2 separate regions of the Homo sapiens genome follow, and region 1 is reported to be linked to region 2. The links are microRNA targets in miRTarBase. Many come from high-throughput screens and were not tested one by one. Region 2 holds a microRNA gene; the other region holds the end of a gene's coding sequence.

The links. Region 2 holds the annotated microRNA hsa-miR-142-5p (CAUAAAGUAGAAAGCACUACU, at 2,797-2,817, shown strand). A microRNA usually pairs through its seed, bases 2 to 8, with sites in the 3' UTR of a target mRNA and lowers its output. Matches are read on the target gene's strand: a 7mer-m8 pairs with bases 2 to 8, a 7mer-A1 pairs with bases 2 to 7 and ends in A, and an 8mer does both.
Region 1: the mRNA of PEX2 is a reported target of hsa-miR-142-5p. Seed matches in the 3' UTR shown: 7mer-A1 at 720-726 and 7mer-A1 at 1,448-1,454.

The regions. Positions count from the first base shown.
Region 1 is chr8:76,979,827-76,983,893 of GRCh38, reverse strand. PEX2 (peroxisomal biogenesis factor 2) reads left to right here. Exons shown (of 4, transcript NM_000318.3): 4 at 1-3,636. The coding sequence ends at 633. Among named protein-coding and RNA genes, the nearest start is that of MIR3149, 15 kb to the right of the region's middle.
Region 2 is chr17:58,330,033-58,334,099 of GRCh38, reverse strand. It overlaps MIR142 (microRNA 142), which reads left to right and starts at 2,782; the gene lies at 2,782-2,868. All of the region lies in intron 2 of TSPOAP1-AS1 (TSPOAP1, SUPT4H1 and RNF43 antisense RNA 1), which reads right to left. MIR142HG (MIR142 host genes) reads left to right here and starts at 1,580. Exons shown (of 1, transcript NR_186557.1): 1 at 1,580-3,212. RefSeq lists enhancers at 433-522, 1,113-1,182, 1,683-1,752, 2,553-2,692 and a silencer at 1,263-1,572.

The DNA.
Region 1 (4,067 bases), not on the chromosome of region 2:
CAGCCACCCAGTAAAAATCAAAAAATCTGGTATGCTGTTTGTACAATTGGTGGCAGGTGGTTAGAAGAACGATGCTATGATTTGTTTCGAAACCATCATTTAGCATCATTTGGGAAAGTCAAGCAGTGTGTGAATTTTGTGATTGGACTTTTGAAATTAGGTGGGCTGATTAATTTTTTGATTTTCCTTCAGAGGGGAAAGTTTGCAACTTTGACAGAACGTCTCCTAGGTATTCATTCTGTATTTTGCAAGCCTCAAAACATATGTGAAGTTGGCTTTGAATACATGAATAGGGAACTTCTCTGGCATGGTTTTGCTGAATTTCTGATTTTTCTCTTACCACTTATCAATGTCCAGAAGTTGAAAGCCAAGCTGTCTTCATGGTGTATTCCTCTTACTGGTGCACCTAATAGTGACAATACATTAGCCACCAGTGGCAAAGAATGCGCTCTATGTGGAGAGTGGCCCACCATGCCTCACACCATAGGATGTGAGCATATTTTCTGTTATTTCTGTGCTAAGAGTAGTTTCTTATTTGACGTGTACTTTACTTGTCCTAAGTGTGGCACAGAAGTACACAGTCTGCAGCCACTGAAATCAGGAATCGAGATGTCAGAAGTAAATGCTCTTTAGAAACTAAAATTGCTTCCTTTGAGGAAAAAAATGCACCGTGTTTAAATTCTTAATATTAGTCATCCTAAGTATACCATTTATGTATCCTTTATAAGGAATGTGCTCCTAGCCACTGTCTTCTCCTTTCCAGGCATGACTGAAATCTAATCACTGGAAACCATGTGATTCTAAATATATTATGTAAATGTTAATGTATTATGTTTTTTAAATCATTGCATTCAATTTTTAATGTCAAGAATAATGGACAGCTTTTGTCAGGTGACTACTAACAATGCTCCTTCATTTTACTACTTCTTAAAACAAGGTTGGATTCTAAAGATAAAGATTTTGGAGACTCTGGGATGAGTGTGCATTTATTTTCAGAGTTGACATAATATGATAATGTGACAATTATGAGACTGTTTTAAACCTTAAGACCTGATGCCTCAGTTGTAACTTTTTTTTTTTTTTCTGAGACGGTGTCCTGCTCTGTCACCCAGGCTGGAGTGCAGTGGCGCGATCTCTGCTCACTGCAACGTCCGCCTCCCGGGTTCAAGCAATTCTCCTGCCTCAGCCTCCCGAGTAGCTGGCACTGCAGGTGCATGCCACCATGCCCGGGTAATTTTTGTATTTTTAGTAGAGATGGGGTTCACTGTGTTAGCCAGGATGGTCTCTATCTCCTGATCTGGTGATCCACCTGCGTCAGCCTCCCAAAGTGCTGAGATTACAGACGTGAGCCACTGTGCTTGGCCGCCTCAGTTGTAATGTTATGCTTTTCTCTGAAGCCAATTTTTAAGAAGTTCAGTCCTCAGCTGTCTGACCCCTCCACAGTTGGCTTTATATTCAGAAAGTAAAAATTACTTAAGGCAGCTTGGAAGTGAGGCCTGGGAACTACTGGGGGCAACTAGTATGAACAGCACTATTTACAGGTCTCTTTCTCTTGCCTTTGATTCAGAGCTGTCATTCTCAGTAAATATTGATAGTTTTATTGAAACAAAAGGGGTCTTTAGCATGGGAATAGTAACAGCAGTGCATAATCAAGATAATTCTGTATCCTTCACTCTTTTTCTCTGCCTTTTTTTACTTAAAAGTAAATTCAGACTCTTAAAATGGTATAGAATTATTAGCTTGAACATTGAATTATCTCGTCTTAACTAGAATGTTTTTTAAAAAACAGTTTTTAAATGTTTTTAAATAAACATCTTGCTAGTATGATGGAAATACACTGCCAGTTCATTTTTCTCTTCACCTTTCATTGAACAAGTACTCAGGTGCCAGGTACTGATGTAGCCATTAGAGGCACAACAGTATATTAAGCAGGAAAAATCAAGTTACCTTCATGGAGTTTACATTCTGTGATTGAATGAACTGTAAGTTTAATTTAGGTTCAATTTAGTGTAAGATACTGAAGAAGTTTTGTAGTTTGAGTTAAGAGTATTTTACATCTTAAGAATTTGCCTTCTTTTGCCTTCTGTAATTTTAAAACATTATTGTAGAAAACACCAACAATTCAGGAAAAAATATAAAATCAACTTTCCCACAATTTTTTGAGAGAGATCATCACTATATTTTACTATATTTGTAGATTTGTTGCACGTACATTTCTTATTTACAAAATTATTATAATGCATAAAAAATAGCATTTTTTCCTATGTATAAATATTCTTCAAAACTATTTTAGGGCTGAGCACAATGGCTCATGCCTGTAATCCCAGGCTCCCTACTTAGGGAGGCTGAGCCCAGGAGTTTGAGTTCGTTTCTAAAAAAATAAAAATATATACAAACGTCTTTGTTTTTTGTTTGTTTGTTTGTTTTTGGTGAGAAAGGGCCTCACCCAGTCACCCAGGTTGGAGTGCAGTGGTGTGATCATGGCTAACCGCAGCCTTTCCCTCCCAGGGCTCAAGCGATCCTCCCATCTGAGCCTCCCAAGTTGCTGGGACCACAGGCCCATACCACCATGCCTGGCTAATTTTTGTAGAGATGAGGTCTCACTTTGTTGCCCAGGCTGGTCTTGAACTTCTGGGCTCAAGCAGTCCTCCTACCCTGGCCTCCCAAAGTTGTGGGATTACAGGCATGAGCCACTGCACCCAGCCATAATATATTTTTAAAATGCTATGTATATGCCATCATATTCCTATTCCTATTATTATTTAACCACCATCATAGAGCATTTAGGTTCTTTTCACTTTCTGTTGTGAATAATGCAATGTTGAATCTGAGTTCATTAAGTGAAGAGTCCAGCTGCACACTGCAGGCCCAGTCTGGATGTAGGTGCTCAGATGGTTCTCTTTGAGACAGGCTTTATCCTTTGGCTCTCATTTTTTTGATGAGTGTACATGGCATGAGGGACACAGATTCCGCTAGAATTCAAATCCCACTTGTGTATAACCTAGGGCAATGTGCCACATCTCTGCACATCTGTTCATTGTAAGGATTACATGTTTAGTGTATATAAAGCTCTTAAAACAATGCCTGACACATAGTAAATAGAATATAATAGTAGTGCTTTCCTTTGCTGTTGTCAGTATTACTCTGAGTCGGTTTCATTCTCACACAGAATGATGGCCGCTAGAAGCTCAAGGCTTATAATCTGCTAGCTTTCTGATCCCACTGGCATGAGATACTCTTGCCTAATAGTTACAGCTAAAGTCCAGGAGCTCACTGTTACTGGTCTGCCTTGGATTATGTGCACATTCCTGAACCAGCCACTATAGCTAGGGGATGGAAAATACTGTTCCTGGTTACTTAAATGTAGGTGATGCTCCTCCCATATACCACATGAACCTAAAGGAGTCCTGGAGGAGGCCGTTCACCACAGGAAACTGAGGTGTTCTTAGAAGGGTGGATGCTGGCAGATCTCTACTAGTTAGAGTCTACATTTGCCTTACTCATTTCAAAAGTCCACATTGCAGTCTCATTTTACCAGTGATCTAGCTTGATAAGGACATTCATAAGTAACTGGATGATTCTTTAACATTGCAGATTTGAAAGGATTAAATAAAGTCAACAAAATTGTTATATCAACAATTGTATTATTTTGATAGAGTAACTTCTAAGTAGTTATCCATATTCTCAAAATCTTAAGAAAACAGTACTTTACATATATGCCAGCTGATAGACTTGTCAGTATTGGGGTAGGGGGTGGTTTTTTTCCACAGACCCTAATGGCACTTAGTAAAAATAGGTTTTTATTATTTTTCATTTTTATTTAACATCTGCCACCCCTACTAGGTGATAACCCCCATGAGTTCAGAGACCATGACTATTTTGTTCATCACTAGATAGCCAGAGCCTTTTAGTTCTAGTGTAGCAATAGAAACATTTTATTAGCTGAATAAACCTAAGGTCGCAGATAGGGTTCTGCAGAAGCTGGCGTTGAAAGGGGTTTGAAGTACAAGAGATTTTTATGTATAACTCTCAGGGATCCATGCCTGTGAAGGGAAAGAGCAAAGCAG
Region 2 (4,067 bases):
CTCCTGGGTCCCATTCTGTGACTCTCTTTTGTGGGGACAGGACGCCTCTGAAGTGAGGGCTATGGAGGCATCATAAGCAGGAGTAGGAGGTAAGATGCTCTCAGGGGAGGAGCCCTGAAGAATGGGGGTCCAGGAACCCAGGTTACTGCACAACTTTGATATTCTTATCCTCTTATCGCCTGGGGCAGCCACTTCCCCTCCACCCAGGTCAGAGGCAGCGGTGGTCTCTTAAAGGAGTATCGCCCCATTTCTGGCCAGCTGGCCCTGCAAGGCAACCCTCCTCACCACTTTCTCTTTAGACTCAAGGGGGTGAAAGGCCCCATTCCCCCTTTCTCTGTCCCATTTTAGGGACCTGGGAATGGGGCAACTTTCCAGGTTGAAGGACCCCCTTCCTGGAGGGAAGGATGTGGGGCCATCTCCCTCCCCACTGCCCCCATGCCAGTCCTCTTCTAGGCCCTGAATCTGACAGCTCCCTAAGGTCTGTGTGGGCCTAAACGGAGGACCCAGAGAAGAGGTCCATGGCCTTCTGGGAAGGAGTCACTGGGTGGTTTTCTCTCTACCGCTCCTACCTCCCCAAACCCATTCCTCTTGCTTCCAGAGCCAAGCCCATGGAGAGGCTTGGAGAACGCTGGGGGAAGATGGTATGGGCTGGGCTCAGCCGACGCTGTCCCCTGCCCACCCCCACACCCTACTCCCCTCCCCCAGCCAGGGGCCCTGGGCTGGGCAGCTTCCTGCCTTCCCCATGGGGAAATCGGGGGTGGCATGCAGGTGGGTGGGCCCCATGCCCACATCCGGTGGCCGCCAGAACCTTCCCTCGAGCCTCTTTCCCGCCACTCCTCCAAGCCCCCTTCTCTCCGCATAGCACCTGTGCCCCACCTTAGGACCTGATCCTCACCCAGCTCTGCCCTGCCCTCTTGTCCCCACAGGTCCCAAAGAGAGCGTGAACACCTAGCCTAGTGCCATCAGTCCACCGGGCCTGAGAGTGTCCCCCGCACTGTGCCCTGCAGGCTGAGGCTGCAGGAGGGGTGGCTTTGTGGGGTGCTGAGGACAACAGTCTCCATGGACGCCCTTCATGCATCAGCACCTCCATGGCCCTCGGGAGCACACGCAGAGGAGCCAGGGCCTGGCCTGAGTGTTGGGAAGGGAAGGGAGTTTTCTGGGCTGAGGTCAGCAGCGGTGGGGCTCAGAGAGAAGGTCCTTTTCTTGTGCTGGAATTCTGGACTCCCCGTTTTGGGCACTCACCGAGGGCCCTGTCGAGGAGCCCTGGTCTTCTGGGGTCACCCTCAATGCCCTGAGTCAGTCCCAGGCTCTTGAGCCATCCCTTGGAGCTGGTGCCACGGGGGGAAGGGCAGCTGGGGCCGGAAGCCACCTGCCCAGGGCATGAGAGAGGGTCCCCAGCCCTCCCGCGGGCCCACCCCCTTCTGTTTCCTGTCAGTCTGTCCTCCCCAGGGAGGGAGGGAGGGAGGGCGCTCATCCCCTGCGGGCGGGGGCGGGGCGCGCTCTGAGACCGTTGGGCGCCCTGAGATCTGGCCCACGTGGCCTCGGGGTTATAAGCCCTGCCCTCCCTGAAGGGAACCCCACTTCGGAGCCTGGAGCACAGGGCGAGCTCTCCTCCGCCCTGCAGCCTCAGGTAAGGATCCGGACCTTCACTGCTGCCCCAACTGGGGCTCCTCAGCTCGGGGCCTCTAGGGGCTTGGGCTGCTGGTCTGGGTGGAGGCGCGTTGGGGGTGTCGAGGAGCTTGGGTGCAAGCCCCATGCGGGAAGCTCAGGGCAAAGCGCCTTGAAACCCTCTCTAGTGAAGGAAGGTAAAATGGCTCCGGGACCCCAGGCGGGGAAAGAGGTGTCCAAGGAGGAGGGCTGGAGAGTAAGGCGGGGATGGCAGAGGGTACGCAGAGGCTGAGAAGTGGGACCAGTGTCTCAAGGGGCGCCAGCCTCTTCCTCCGCCCAACATGGCCACCATTTTTGTTGGGATAGCCTTGGGCTCCTGCCAGGGGAACAGCAGGGCAGTGAGGGAGTCAGGACTTTGGGCTGGTGGGGAGGCCGAGAATCAAGGCTCTGGGGAGTCAGGACTTTGGGGCTGGTGGAGTGGCTGGGGACTGAGGCCCTGGGGGGTCAGGACCTTGGGCTGCTATGGAGGCTGGGACTGAGGCTCTGGGGGAGTCAGGACCTTGAGCTGGTGGGGAGGCTGGGAATTGAGGCCCTGGTGTGTTCAAGACCTTGGGCTGGTGGGGAGGCCAGGGCCTGAGGCCCTGGGGGGTCAGGACCCTGGGCTGTTGGGGAGGCTGGGGACTTAGGCCCTGGGGGGTCAGGATCTTGGGCTGGTGGGGAGGCTGAAGGGTGGGGACTGAGGCTCTGGGCAGTCAGGACCTCACGGTTGGGGTGGACTGGAGACCAAGACCTTGGCAGGGGAGCTGTGGCTGCCTCATTTGGACGCTGGAGGGTGGCTAGCGTGGCTGGAAGCGGCCAGCCAGGGGTTCACAGAACTGAAGGTGAGGCCTCCAGAGGCCCTAGTCTCTACCTGAGTGTCTCTGAAACTGGGGGGATGGGGTGGAGCCTTTAGGGGGAAGGGAAGAGGGAACTGAAGAGGAAGTGGGGGAGGGAGGTAGAGGAGGCAAGTCTGGCGCCATGCTGAGTCACCGCCCACAAGGCCCAGGGCGGGCCCTCGGGGGGCCCTGGCAGGGTTGGGGGGATCTTAGGAAGCCACAAGGAGGGCTGGGGGGCTCTTGGAGCAGGAGTCAGGAGGCCTGGGCAGCCTGAAGAGTACACGCCGACGGACAGACAGACAGTGCAGTCACCCATAAAGTAGAAAGCACTACTAACAGCACTGGAGGGTGTAGTGTTTCCTACTTTATGGATGAGTGTACTGTGGGCTTCGGAGATCACGCCACTGCTGCCGCCCGCTGCCCGCCACCATCTTCCTCGGCGCTCGGGGACCTCGTGTGACAGGTGAGCACCTTACGGCCCCTCCCTACCCTGCCCAGATGCCTGAAAGGCCTCCATGGCTTTCCTGCCCTTCCTGGTTCCGGACAGCTGGGGAAAGGCCACAGCAGCTCCTCTGCTGCCCTGCAGTCTTTGGGGGCGGGGAGGGCTGGACATGTGGAACCCTGATGCAGCCGCAGCGTCAAGGACGAGGAAGGGGTGGGAAGGGATGGTACGTGGAGGGGAATGGGTGGTGGGACCAGGGACCCAATGCTAATAAAGACTGGACTGTGCTTCTCTTTTGTCTGAGACTCTGTTGCTGGGGTGGGGAGCTGAATGCGGGCGGCAGGCACATGGACAGTATGGGCGCACAGAAGGGCTGGGAGGGAGAACCTCTGTCGCTCCTCCAGAAGATACGGGTTTGGCCCTGCCTATGAGATCAGAAGAGGGCTCTGGGCCTGGCCAGGCCACAGCCGGAGGAGAGAAGGGCCTGGGCCATCTGCAGAAAGGGGCAGGGATGTAAGGCATCCTCTCACCTTCTACCCTAGCTCTGGCCCTATCCTGCCCCCCTACATACCCAAACTGAAAGCTGCCTACATCCAGTTTTAATCTAAGAAAGTCTAGGGGGTCCTAGGTCATATAAAAATTGGGCAAAATCCACTGTGGCACATACACAGCATCTTAGACAAGGGCACAGACACTCATATACAAAGCACACACTGAGATGCAAATGCATTTACACACAGAGGCCCCATTCAGTGTGCCAGTAACACACACACAGACACATGTGACATGACTGGCATGACACACACAGGGATTACACACACCCAGGGCACATACATATTCAGTAGTACACACATGCAATGATAGAAACATAGGGCGTGTCTTACACATAGAAGAGCACACACATACAGTGACATTTGCATAATAAACACGGTGGCTCCATACACATACATAGATAGAGACATGTTCATATATCATGATAAATATAGAATACATAGATACATGGTGATATATATATATAAATCAAACCATGTCATTATGCATATTTACATGACGATATGAGCATGTCATATATTGTGTAATCAATTACTACATTGTGCCATATAGTAGCATCCATATCTATATATATCATGATGTGTTGTAAT